Linked DNA regions of Homo sapiens: region 2 is linked to region 1. The links come from fine-mapping of genetic effects on gene expression. Tissue or cell type: tibial artery. Region 1 holds a variant in brackets; the other region holds the start of a gene. All regions are shown on one strand. Distances are between the middles of the regions.

Evidence for each region. PIP is the estimated chance that this variant, and not a neighbour inherited with it, causes the effect.
Region 2: it holds the start of MN1, and the variant in region 1 is fine-mapped to the expression of MN1 in tibial artery (GTEx, PIP above 0.99).

The regions. Positions count from the first base shown.
Region 1 is chr22:27,434,956-27,442,758 of GRCh38, forward strand. It overlaps LOC105372980 (a long non-coding RNA gene), which reads left to right and starts at 1,337. Exons shown (of 3, transcript XR_938123.4): 1 at 1,337-1,496; 2 at 4,923-5,090; 3 at 6,292-6,979. RefSeq lists an enhancer at 2,879-3,542. The variant A/G (reference allele first, on the strand shown) is at 3,419.
Region 2 is chr22:27,798,774-27,803,773 of GRCh38, forward strand. It overlaps MN1 (MN1 proto-oncogene, transcriptional regulator), which reads right to left and starts at 2,983. Exons shown (of 2, transcript NM_002430.3): 1 at 1-2,983. The coding sequence starts at 1,770. RefSeq lists enhancers at 1-503, 504-1,049.

The sequences.
Region 1 (7,803 bases):
GCCTTGGAAGCAGCTAGTCTGTAGCCACTAGACATCAGGGCCAAGACCAAAGCAAACAGAGAAATCAAATTTCTCTCAAAATCCCTTGCAATGTGTTCCTGTGGGGCTGAGAAATCCTTCCATTTCATGGGTTGTGAAAGATGCCGACTCCGAGACAAGATAACGGGATTTATTTCGCAAGCCCAGTGCGTTCCTGCAGGGCCGCCCCTTCCCACTCTTCTCAAATTTTTCACCCTCCTTGGCATCCCTGGAGAAGCCTCAGAGACCATCAAGTCCCCGGCGAGCTCATTTAACAGACAGGGAGACTGAGGCCGGGGTAGGAGGTGAGGGAGACAGAACTTGCCCAAGGTCACCTGGGGCCAGGAAGTGAATCAAACTCAGGCCTGTCTGAGGCCAGGCCGGGGATTCCGACCTCCTCCTGTTAGGATTCCGGAAAATCATCTCAGGATCTTTTTCGGTTTTCTTTTTTTTCTGGCCCTTACTTGCTCTTCTCTGTTTGTCTCTCTCCATTTAAAAAAATTCTCTCCTTAATCCTTCCTCTCCTTGCCCCTACTCCTAAGACTCTCTCTCTGTCTCTTTCTCAGGGGCTCACTCTCTCTTTCTTCATTTCTCTACCTCCTTTTCCCTCCCACACCATCTCCATCATTCTCTCTCCCTTACCTCAATTGTCTCCTTGTCCTCCCTTTTGCTCCTAAAGCCCTTCCCCTCTCTTCTGCACCTTTCTTGCAGGCCTACTCATGCCCTTCACACACTCACCTAATTTGGGGGCTGCCCTCTGCCTCCCTGCCTCCACCAGCATCGCCTTTGCCAGATCCCCTACCTTTAGCTCCAAAGCACATGCCACCTAGAGGGTCCTAAACCAGCTAGGAAGCCCCCACCCGGGACCACCAGGCCCCAACCCCGGCTGTATTTGCAGCCACAGAGGAGCCCCCCACCCAGAGTGAGAACAGACACCTGATGGAAGCGGGGCTGGGGCCGAGCAGCTGTGAGCCCTGATTAAAGCACGCACTTCTTCCCGGCTGCCTGGTTTGCATTACATCCGGCCGGGCGGGCTCCAGGCTGACAGCTGGACGCACTTTTCCAGGGCGCAAGGAAGGCAGTCAGACCGTGTGTGTGCACACATGCGTGGGCTCCGTCCCGGACAGGCCCGTAATGGCTTTCACATGGAGAATGCAGCAAACTTCTCCAACCTCAAGCACCGATTTTCCTGTCAAGAGATGTTGGATTCCAAAAAAAAAAAAAAAAAAAAAATTATAATCACAAAGAAAAGGGCTTTGGAATTTGCACAAAAGGGTCAGACCCTGTGAAGTCAGATTCTGAAATGGAACCAGAATCTGGAGACAATGGAAGGAGGAAGAAAGAGGGAGGGAGAAAGACCCTAGTGTCTGTCCTCAGCGGCTGCGGCCAGGGCTGGAGAGGTGTTCATGGCCCAGGAAGGACAGAAAAGAAACCACTGCCTGAGGGTCTGGCTCAGCTCTGCAATCCCTCCTCCCCAGGTAGGACAGACAGCCCAGGGGTATGAGGCCAGGTTCCAGCATTTGACTGTGGGTTTGAATCCAAACTCCTTTGCTGACTGCAGTGATAGAACTTACCAAGTATCAGCTTCCCCCTCTGTTAAACGGGGCTCCTGTGCCTCATTCCTGGGGCTTCAGAGAAATTCGCTGAGCTGAGACTTGCACACCCGTCAGCTCATGGCTTGAACCTCTCCTAGCTGTCGTGAGCTTGTCCTCCCTGGAGAAGAGTGCTGGAGCAGAAGGCAACAAACCCCGATCCATTCTGGCTTTGCCTGTTGGGTTATCTCAGGCTCAGTTTGCCCATCTGCAAAATGCGCACACAGGACACTGAGCCCTCCTGCGTCCTGCTAGTTTCCTGACCTGCCCTAGAGCCTGACTCACAGAGGGACTCACGGGACAGGGCACCACTGCTCCTCCCTGTTTCATGGCCTTTGCCCATGCACACCCCCTGCCTGGAACACTCTTCCTCTGACCCAAAGGCCCCTTGGGAGATGACCCCTCCTGGAAAAGGCCTCTCTGACCCCAGCAGATAGGATTTCACTCGTGTAGCCCTGCACATCCTTTTTATGACACCTATTACCTCTAGGAAGCCTCATTCAATATCTTCCTGGGGATTTTTGGACCCTAGGCTCCGTGACAGGCCCGAACCTGCCATGGTCCCCTTTGCCCCTGCTGAAGCCCGCAGCACCCAGCACTACGATTGCATGTCTAATCACAGGAAATCCACTTTGGGAGGCTGAGACAGGAGGATCCCTCAAGGCCAAGAGTTCAAGACCAGCCTGGGCAACATAGTGAAACCCCGTCTCTACATAAATAAAAATAAAAAATAAAAACAAATTAGCCAGGTGTGGTGGCACATGCCTGTAGTCCTGGCTACTACGGAGGCTGAGGTGGGAGGATCACTTGAGCCCAGGAGGTTGAGGCTTCAGTGAGCTACGATTGTACTACTGCACTCCAGTTGGGGTGACAGAGTCAGGTCCTGTCTCTAATGAATAATAATAATAAACTATTTATTTTTATTATATAAATGTATAGTAACTATTATTATTATAAGATATTAAATACTTATAGAACACCAGTCATGCGTGAGGCCCTGCAGTCACAGCAGTGAATGAGTGAATGAATGAATGAATGAATGGTGATAAATGAAAGCACGAACTTATAGGACACTTATTGGTGTACGTCTGAGCTGAGTCCTCTACATGAATCATCTTATTTAATTCCCACATCAACACCAGAAGGCAGGTGCTGTTATTATCCCCACTTCACAGATGAGGAAGCTGAGGCCCAGAGAAGTTAGGCAACTTGTAAAAGGCCACACAGCCAGGGCAGTGGAGACAAAATCCAATCCCAGGCAGTCTGGTTCCAGAGCTTATGGGCCCAGCCACCAGACTAGACTGGAGCCCACAGGAGGGGATCATGAGGGTTGTTTGAAGACATGTTTCCTTCTGCCCGCCTGGGACAGCAGGTACCTGGGAGTAAGTGCCGGGGCTGGCTCATTTCTGCAAGGAGCAGCCTGGGATGCAGAACAGAGAGGCAGGGGCTGGCCAGCCTGAGAAGTGGCTCCAGATCCTCCATGGGACAGTTTGCGCCCATTTGACCACTGTGAGATGTGGAATCAGACATGACTCTGAATCTCCCCTTCCCTGCCCTTCACCTAGAAAGGGACCGCTGACGTTCTGTGTGACCTCTGGCAGAACACCTACCCCCAGAATCTTGGTGTGCTCATCTGGGCAATGGGAATGATAAAATCTGCCCTGCAAACACACACCACACACATCCACCCAGCTAGGGGCTGGGCATGGCCAGGAGCTGAACCCTGGGGACTGTTTCAGGGGCAGCCAGGGCAGCAGCTGGGGAAGGACTCGAGCCTCCCCAGCCCAGCTGGCTTCTGGCGGGGGTCC[A/G]GCCTGGCCACAGCCACCAGTCCTCCAGGCTTAATATCCTTGGCGGCAAGGCTAGAATAAGCTGTCTTTCAAGAGGGGAGCTTTATTTATACGCCGATGCCAGTCGCGCTCCTGCTATTAGAAATCTCATCGGCTCCTTTGATTTAGGGCTTACCACAAGCTGCCAATCGCGGCCGCCTCCTGGCCCAGCCCTGCAGCTCGGCCAGCCTTGTTCCGGCTCACAGCAGCAGAAACGAACATTATTTAATTTCCCGCCAGCGGGCAGTGAAAGCCGGAGCTCCCCCTCCCGCTGGACGTATTTATTTAATCCTTTTTGGAAATAGTGTCTGGGGATGGATCTGAAGGCCAGCCCTGGGGACTCTGCTAATCCCCCAGGCCTGGGCAGGCGGGGCCTTGGGGTGGAGACTGAGTGAGGCCTCTTGGGAGGATTCTAGAGGAACCTCAACCTGGGAGCCCAGGGCGATCTGCCACTCACTGACCCCTGAGGTGTCTGCTTGGGAGGTGTCACCAGCAGACTTCGAGATAAGCACTGCAGGGCTAGTTTATCTGGGAGGGGGATCCCAGGATGTATCAACAGGGGATGGGGACTTGAGGCAAAGAGGGGAGGTGGTCAAGTCTGGCTGCCATTAAGCAGCCAGTTTTTGCTGTGGGTGACTGGGGCTCAGTTGTGCTGAGGACCTTTTGCAAGAACACTCACCTCAGAGTCATCCGCCCAAGGAGCAAGGAAACCAGGGTATTTATACTCCAGCTCCCATCTGTCATTGGTGGAGGGCTGCTTCCCCCAGGAAGGGGCATTTATTCCCTACACTCCTCTTCCTTCTACACTGGGGCCAAGCAGGCGCCTGCAGACATCTCCCCACCTTGCAGGCGAGTGGTGAGTGACAGGAGGATATGGGCAGAGCACCAACCACTTGAAGCTATTTATCCTCCTTGTCACCTGTCAACTCTTTCTCTTTCTTTAGCCTCTGCCCAAAAGACACCTCCTCCAGGAAGCCCTCCTTGACCACCCCAGGAAAAATCTTATCCATTACCATCTTGTCATTCAGATATTTCCTTCCGAACATATAGCATGTGCCAGGATTATCCATTTACTTACTTGTTTGTGGGTTTACTGCCTATCACTCCCACTAGACTGGACGCCTCCTGAAGCAGGGGGTCATGTGTATCTTAATCTGCATTGCAGCCCTTGCACACAGTAGGCACTCAACAACTATTTTTGGAATGGGGGTGGGGACTCCTGATTTATGTAATTCAGGCTCTGCGTCGCTTACCACAGTGCTTGGCAGTAGGCTAGGCTCCTTACATGTGATGATGGTTCCTTTAACACTCAGCCAAGCTTTCAAGGATGGGATCAGCACACCCATTTGACAGATTGGAAAGGTGAATGTACCGAGAAGATGCTGCATCAAACTCAGCTGTGGGTTTGCATAGCACCAAATCTTACTCCGCTCTCCCTGCAGCCCCAGAGAGTGGATGGAAAGGTTTTCTGGGTTTCATTTCACAGCTGTGAGAATTGGGGCCCTCTGGGATACGCCCCCATCAGGCGGGGAGACAACGGGGATCCAGGCCACATAGAGTCTATGATGTCTTAAGCACTGGAGGGTATCAGTAGAGAGAAGTATGAGAAGTATGAGAAAGTGCTGAAGAAATCACGGGATGCTTCCTGGAGAAGGTGACTCTTCTTTTCCTATTATAAATATTAAAATGAGAAAGAAAATCAGTCTCTTTGGGAAAGCAGGAAATTCAAAATATTTGATGACCCAGAAGCCCTGGCAGCACAGAGCCTAGAGACTTGTTTGCACAAAACACTCCCAAAGCAGAAATGTATTATATGTAATATAAAGTATAATACGAGGTTTTATATGTCATCATTTTAATACGTCATGATGCCAAATTGTCCAAGCTAAAAGGCTAAATACAGAAAAGTTAAAGATGAAAGGGGAAGAGGAAGACACTGAGGTCAAGGTGGCAAAAGTAGACAAAGTGCAGGAGGGAGGAGGCATTTTCCCTGGGCAATTGATTCAGCACCGAGGCGCTTCTGGAGCCTTTGTCTATGTGACGTGGTTGTGGCAGCAGCCCGTTGAGTGTTAATTGTCCATGAGTTCTAATAGGTGTAATATTCTCGAGTGTTACATGTGCATTAATTAAGTAACACTGCATTTAGCCCCAAATCATGCAAAAGGCTTGTGTGGTGTTTGCAGAGGCATAAATATCCTCACAGTTAGTGAGTTGCTGGCACTGTTTTCTCTCTGCCCACAGCAGTCCAAAAACATAGATTGAGAGAAATGGGAAGTGGTGGAAACAGGAAGGAGTGCGAAGGGTGAGGAAAGCCTCTGCCACCCTCCAGACCAGGAGGAAAGAAGAATTAAAGATGAGATACATACATAGTATAGCCAGTGGGCTTTGAAGTCAGACAGATGCAAGTTTGAATCCCAGCACAGTCACTGACTTACTGTGTGATCTTGGACAAGTGGCTTGGCTTCTCTGAGCCTCAGAAAGCAAGAATCATAATAGGACCCTCCCCTTAAAAAGTGGTTGTGAGCAGTCAGTGGGATGAGGCATGGAAGGAGCTTAGTGCAAAGTGCTTTATAATGTATGGGATGATGGGGGTCGCGGTGGGAGTGGTAATTTAGGGGTCCTGTGACAGACCTGGATTTCGCTAAATTGGGATGAGAGCCCAGGTGAGGGCTGGTGTAGGGGATACTTTGGGATTATGGGAAGCAAGAACCGCATTCTTTTCTGGGCAGTACTGAGCTCCCCATATGGGAAGGAAGCACCTAACCAGGAGAGGTAGCTTGGGGTGCGAAGAGGATAGAATTGTCCCAGGATGACAGTACAGATAGGCAGTCTAATCCTTGTTCTGCCTCCTACAGGACATAGCTTTGGCTTGACCCTCTGCTGCTGTGAGCTGCACTCTGTGAAATGGGATCATGTTCTCAACCAGCCTCCCTGACATGAGTTGATTGCACCAAAACCCTATGGATAAAAGAGTTGTTGCCATAGAAAAAGAGACAAGCGCGATTTGCAGAGCAAGCTGAAGCCCCAGAGATCTTCCCTGTCCCCACAGACCCCTGCTGTGCCCATTTGGTCAGCCCTGCCTCGAGCCCAGTGGGATCCCCCCGCTACGCCCCATCCACATTTCAAATGACAGCATTGTCAGGCTTTGGCTATCTTCCCCTTCTGCAAATGGGAAACTGAGGCTGCAAGAAGGGAAGTGACTTGCTCAAAGACACCTTGCAATTTGGTGGCAGCCTGGAGCTCAGACCCCCTGACTCCCATGCAGGGCCTACCACTCCATCCCCCTCAAAACCCACAAAGATTCCGTTCTGTTCTGTCCTCAGCCAACGCGGTGGCCCACCCACCTTGGGCGACCAGAGCCAAGAGGTTGTTTGTCTGTTTTAGACACTCTCGTCGCTGTGTTTCTTCTTTATCTTTTAAGGGCTCGAGACTCAGGAAAACCAACTCAACGTGCATAATTTGGCAATTATTTCTTGTGTTCATCCTCACGGCCGTGGCTGCATACAGATATTGGAATTTGCATAAAACAATCTTGCTACCAGTCCCACGGCTTCCTGGGAAGAAGACGCCCAGGTGGGGGTGGGGAAGGTTTCAGGTCGCGTCCACCTGTTCCCCCTCTGTCCCCGGCCACAAAGGGAAATAAAGGTAACACATGGTGTGGAGAAGGGTGCTCAGCCCTCGGCACCCCTGCCCAAGGGAGAGAGAAGGGGTGGGACCCACTGGGGCCTCTGTGGCAGGATAAATGCCCCCTGGCAGCCTGGAACCCTTCCGATTAGTATTCAGCAAGCATCTCGCTCAGAAAGGATTAATGGAGTCTGATGTTTAATATCCTGGAGAACAATTAATTTGCCCACAGTTTTGTCATGGTTGAAAGTCAAATGCTGGAACAGATCGATGCTCGCATGGCGAGCTGGAGCCCAGAAACCCTGGGCAGGAGCAGAATTTTAATGTTCCCATCCTGGCCCCCCTTTCCCCCCCATTCCCAGCACACCCACTTTCTAATAGTTCTAAAAGCCACTTTATCCCTGCACAGTGCTTGCTGTCTTCACAAGAGTCCACTGGGAGCCTTCGAAGGCAAAATCCGGCCCCCACAAGACTTCCATTATGGGATTGAAGTTGGCCGGTCCTTCTTGGGGGTCTGACCTCCGTTTTATTCCAATTGTCCTCGCCAGCGCCCCAGCCCTACCCTCTTCCCCGGCAGGGCCGCTGATGTCTGGACATTGTCACCAAGACACTTGTTCTTGAAAAGACACCGGGGCGAAGAGGAACGTGGTGGGGTTGCAGTGGTGATTTGTTTATTTATTCGCTTGCCGGAGTTTTGCTGTCTGTTTACGCCTCACTGTTGGCTTGGCAAGGACACTGCAGTG
Region 2 (5,000 bases), 360 kb after region 1:
CACCAGGCCGCCCTGGCCCACGTCCCCGGGGTGGCCTAGCTGAGCCAGGTTGGGCTGGCGCAGCCGCTGCTGCTGATTCCGCGACGCCATCTGCTTAATCATGAGGGCCGCGTTTTGGCGCTGCTGCTGCTGCTGCTGTTGCTGTTGCTGTTGCTGCTGCTGCTGCTGCTGTTGCTGCTGCTGCTGCTGCTGCTGCTGCTGTTGCAGGGACTGGTGGTCCGGGGCCGGATGCTGCAGGGGCGGCCCCGAAGGGAAGCTGTCGGGCACAGGCGGTGTGAACTCGCCGGGTAGGCCTGGGTAGGCGGAAGGGGAGAGGTGATTATCCAGAGCGCCGTTGTGCATGCTGCCGTTCCACGAAGCGCAGCGGTCCACTCCCGCGCTGCCCGGAAAGTCGAAGCGCGGCCTCTTGGCCACGTTCATGTAGGGGGGCGCGTCGAAATGCTGCAGCCGCTGGTTGGGCGCCTGCTGCGGAGGAGGATGCTGCATGCTGAAAACAGGCTCGGAATAAGGGTGCATGCTCCGGTTCTCCAGCCGGTGGATGGGATACTCGAATTGCGCGTGCTGGCTGGGCAGCATGGGGCCTCCGTCCTGCAGGCCGCCGCTGGGCGTGCCCGCCTCGCCCTGCTGGGGCCGAGGGAGCGCAGGCGGGCACGAATTTTGTCGGACTAGAAGCCCGGGTGGCGGCGGCGGCTGCTGCTGTGGCGGCTGCTGCGGGGGCTGCTGCTGAGGGGGTGGCGGGGCCTGCTGGGGAGGCTGCATTAACGGGTGCCTGGAGCCCACTGAGGGCTCCAGACCCACAGGCATCTTTCTGGCCCCACTGAACCTCTCAAAGAACACACCATGCTGCTGCTGCTGCTGCTGGGGCTGCTGCTGCTGCTGGGGCTGCTGCTGCGGTGGCTGGGCGTGCATTTTGGACAAGCCCACCATGCCCGCAGCTCTGGGCATGGCCGAGGCGCCCGGGAAAGCGCCCCCAGGAACCTGGCGACCCGCTGCATAATGAGGCAGCTGCCCTTCGGAGTCAGAGGGCGAAAACATGTCAAAATGTCCCGAGGGCGCCTCGCCCGGGTAATTGTATTCCAGCGAGTCGACGGCTCCTTGGTTCGTCACCCTCCGTGGCTCCAGACTGTGGGAATCGGAGCCGCTGGAGGACGGCAGGCCGTGGAAGGAGGCGGCTCGGTTAGGGCTCTGGTCCAGCGGCAGGCATGGGGCCGGCACGGCGTGGCTGGAGGCACCTGAACTGTGGAAGTCCGGGAGGTTCCCCGGTCGCTGCGGGCCGAAGCTCTCAGGCCCCTGGCTCTCCGCCATGTGCTCATAGCCCTCGGCGAAGGGCGGCTGGCTGCCCAGGCCTCCGGCTGCGCCGCCGTAGCCGAGCAGGCGACCCCCGTGCAGGCACGAGGCCCCGGGGTCCGGGCCACCGAAGTTGCCCCCAAAGTGGGGGTGATGCTGGTGGGGATGATGACTTCCCGGGTGGCCGTGGTGAGGCTGCTGGCCGCCAAAGAAGCCGTGCACAGGCTGCGCTTGCAGCCCCCCTGCGTGCAACTCCGAGTGGCCGCGCGCGTGGAAGCCGTAGGGCTCCATGTTCATGCCCAAGATCGGGGGTTCGCCCAGCGCGCTCATAGCAGGATCCACAGGGCCAGGGGGCCCCCCAGTGTGGAAAGCCGGGGCCTTAAAGTGGGTGTTCATGCTCAGTCCGGTCTCGTTAAAGTTCCTCTCGCCCTGGCCAGCGTTCCTGCTGTTGACCTGGGGCTCGAATTGGTCCAGCCCAAACATACTTGGCGGGGGGCAGAGGGGGATCAATAGGGCATGACAGCCGGCTCTCCGCGGCGCGCCTCCGGCCAGCTACTCGTTCCAGCCCAGGATTGGGCGCTCCGGGACGCTCAGCACCGCGGGGGCTCAGCGCGCACCTCCACCCCGCCTGATGTGAGGGACGGGGGGCGGGGTATTAGCTCCTCTCCTGAAGCTCCGATTCTGCCCGGGGAGGGCCTCTCACATCTTGCGAGGCCGCGGGGCCTCTAGGAGCCGTGTTGGGGGGCCCATGCCCCGGGCGGTTGTCACAGCCGCGGGTGGGTCTGCGGGGAGGGGACGAAGCCGCGGATGAACGGAGACAAAAAGTTAAGTGGGGGGAATGGGGAGGGAAGGGGGTTGGGAGAGCAGAGCGATCACCTTCTCAAGTCCGATTGGGTCTGCTGGGGAGCCCTCAGGACGCCGCCCGCAGCCTCCCGGAGTCCGTGGCAGAGCTGCTAAGGGCAGGGGAGGGAGACCCTTCAAAGCCGCGGCTGGCGCCGGGCACCGACAGAGCGGTCCCTCCCCCCGCCCCCCGGAGTCCCCGCGCCCCGCAGCCCGAGCCTCCACCGAGCACGATCCGCTCGCACAATCCCCGTAGGCTCCGGGCGAGCGGCTGCTGCTTCTTCAGCGGGTCGGAGGACTGGAGGCTCCGCTCGGCATCGCCGGTGCCGGCCCCCGAGCCGAGGACGCAGAGGGGCTGCGAGGCGGCAGGCGCCGGGGGCTGGAGCCGAGGGTCGGGGAAAGGCGCGGCTCCTCTGCTCGGCAGCGGGTGCGCTGCGTTCGGCGCGCAGCTTCGCGGCCACGTCCGCCGCCTGCCGCTTCTGTTCTCCGCCGTTGGGTGTCTGAGTTCGCCGGAGTCTCCGCGCACCGTTGCAGGCGCGGGAGGGCAGCGAGACGAGGGGTTGGGTCGCTCCAAGGCTCCGGTTCCCTGCCTCCGCGCTGAGGTGCTTCGCGAGTCCCTCTCGGACCTGAGGGAGGGGGGCGTACGCGGGTCGGGGGGCCACGCCGGGCGAGCAGGCTAAGGCGTTCCCGCTGCGCTCTCAGAGCCCGGAATGGGGGGAGGGGGGCGCGGGGGCAGCTCTGGGGGGTCTGCGCACCCCTCTCCCGACTAGCGGGGGGGCTCTGCGTGGGGCGTTCCGAGGGTCTCGGCTCCCCTCTCTGTGTCTGCCTCTCGCCCAGCGCCGGGAGAAGCAGCAACAAGTTTTGCATTTCAGCAATCAATTTCAGCCATTACATTTGCACCAATCAGCGCCGCCCAAGTTCCGGGCTCGGGGCGGGGCTCGCTCTTAAGGTGGTCCGGGGTCCTGGCTGCCGAAGCCCCCGCCACGAACCCGCACTACCCCAGCTCTGGGGTCCCCTGCGCCCGCCTCTCCTCGGGGTCCGGCGTCAGTGCGCTGGGGGCGCGCCCCGGCCTCCGGGCGCATCGAGCTGGAGAGGGTGCAGGCGGAGGAGAATGGCGGGAGCTTGGCTTTGTTCACCCCCTTCCCATTCACACTGTTCCCAACTCCCCACCCCCAACTGGAGCGAGACCCACCGGGTGGGCAGGGGGCGGGGAGGTGGGCGGTGAGCGGTACGGGGCGCTCAGACAATGAGGTCGCCAGGCAAAGACCCTAGACTCGCCACGGAAAGTCGCTAAGTGTCTACTGCACTTCGGCTCCGGGGTGAACACTCCGTTCTCCGCTAGCGGCGCCCAAGTTAGCCGGCCCTGGGATTTTCTTGGAGGGTAAAGCAGACGGGGAACCTCGAAGTTAGGGTTCTCCTCGAGAGACCTGGGCGCTTGCTCACTCCTCCGTCACTAGGGCGTTCACAATTGTTCCCCTTCCCCACTGCCTGGGGTTCCCGGTTCTCACCGGCCGGCGTGGGCTCCAAGGAGTCACAGTCACTCAGCCACTTTATGGGGGAGCACATCGGTTGAGCCCAGTAACCGGAGCGACTTGCGAGGCGGCTGGGAACCCCGAGAAGACACGCACGAAGAGGGCGCACCCGCCGGGCCGCACACCTTGCCCTGGGCCACCCGGTCCAAGACCCAGACCCTCTGCGGGTGCGAAGTTGGCCTCCTTAAGAGATCAATTAAACTGAAGAGGCCGAGGAATGGAATTGGGCTGTGATACTAAAATCAATAGGAGTAATTTAATATCTGCCCTGCTCTTTATGAAATATTTATCCCAATAATCTTAGTTAAAATGTTTAGATCGTCCTGATCCCCACAGAGGCTGAAATCTATCTTGCAATTAGAAGTTGGAAGTTAGAGGTGATGGAGGATAGAGGTGTTTATTCTGTGCGCCTGTGTGCGTGTGCTCGCGCCTGCGTGCGTGTGTTTGTGCATGCGTGTGTGTGTGTGTGTGTGTTCCTCCCTAAAGTGTGTGTAGGGAAGGAGGGGGGAGAAGGCCTTTAATTTTCCTTGCCATAAAATAGCACGAGGCGATTTTGCTAGCAGATTCGCATTCTTAGGAGAAGGGCGAAAAAAGAACTTTCTTTGAAGTGCCCCTGATATCGCTATTAAATCTAAATAAAATTAAGCGTGGTGTATGAAAATGCCTTTCCCCCCCCACAAAAGAAAGTGTTTATCGCCCGAGTCTGTCTAGCGTTTGCTAAATTACGCATGAAATCTGAAATGAAATAAACGTTATAATAAAACCAACCCCTGAGCCCTTTTTATTTAAAAACCTTAGATTAAGCACTCCACCGTCGCGGGCAGGAGTTAAAAAGTTACCATGTCGTACGCGCAGATTCATTGCTCCCCTGAGTTGCGGCTAGGAAGGCAGTGCTAAGTATGCCAGAACCGACATGCCGGGGGTGGGGGGAAATGGGCTCAACTTTGGGGTAGCGGCAGAATTCCTAAGAAATTGCCCCCCGCCCAAAAAAAATTTTAATTAAAAATAAACAAACAAGAAAAAACAACAACTTTAAAACTCAGCCAGAGCAAGCTCAGATCCAAGACCTTTCCCGGGGCCTTCCTGTTGTGGAAGTTTACAGACATATATATTTTTTCTTTTTTGAAATTAAAAATGAAAATTACCCCCATCAAAAATGGGGTCCATAAATAAGCATAGGGAATAAGTATTTGTACAGGGCGGTGGAGTTTTTAAAGGATTTTTCTGCAGGATCAGGTTGTTGGTCTGTGATTAAATATTGATTTTGTGTAATTAGTTTTCATGTGAACTATCCTCTTGCTGATAGCTTAGAGGTTTCAGAACTAGAAAAGAAATGGAATT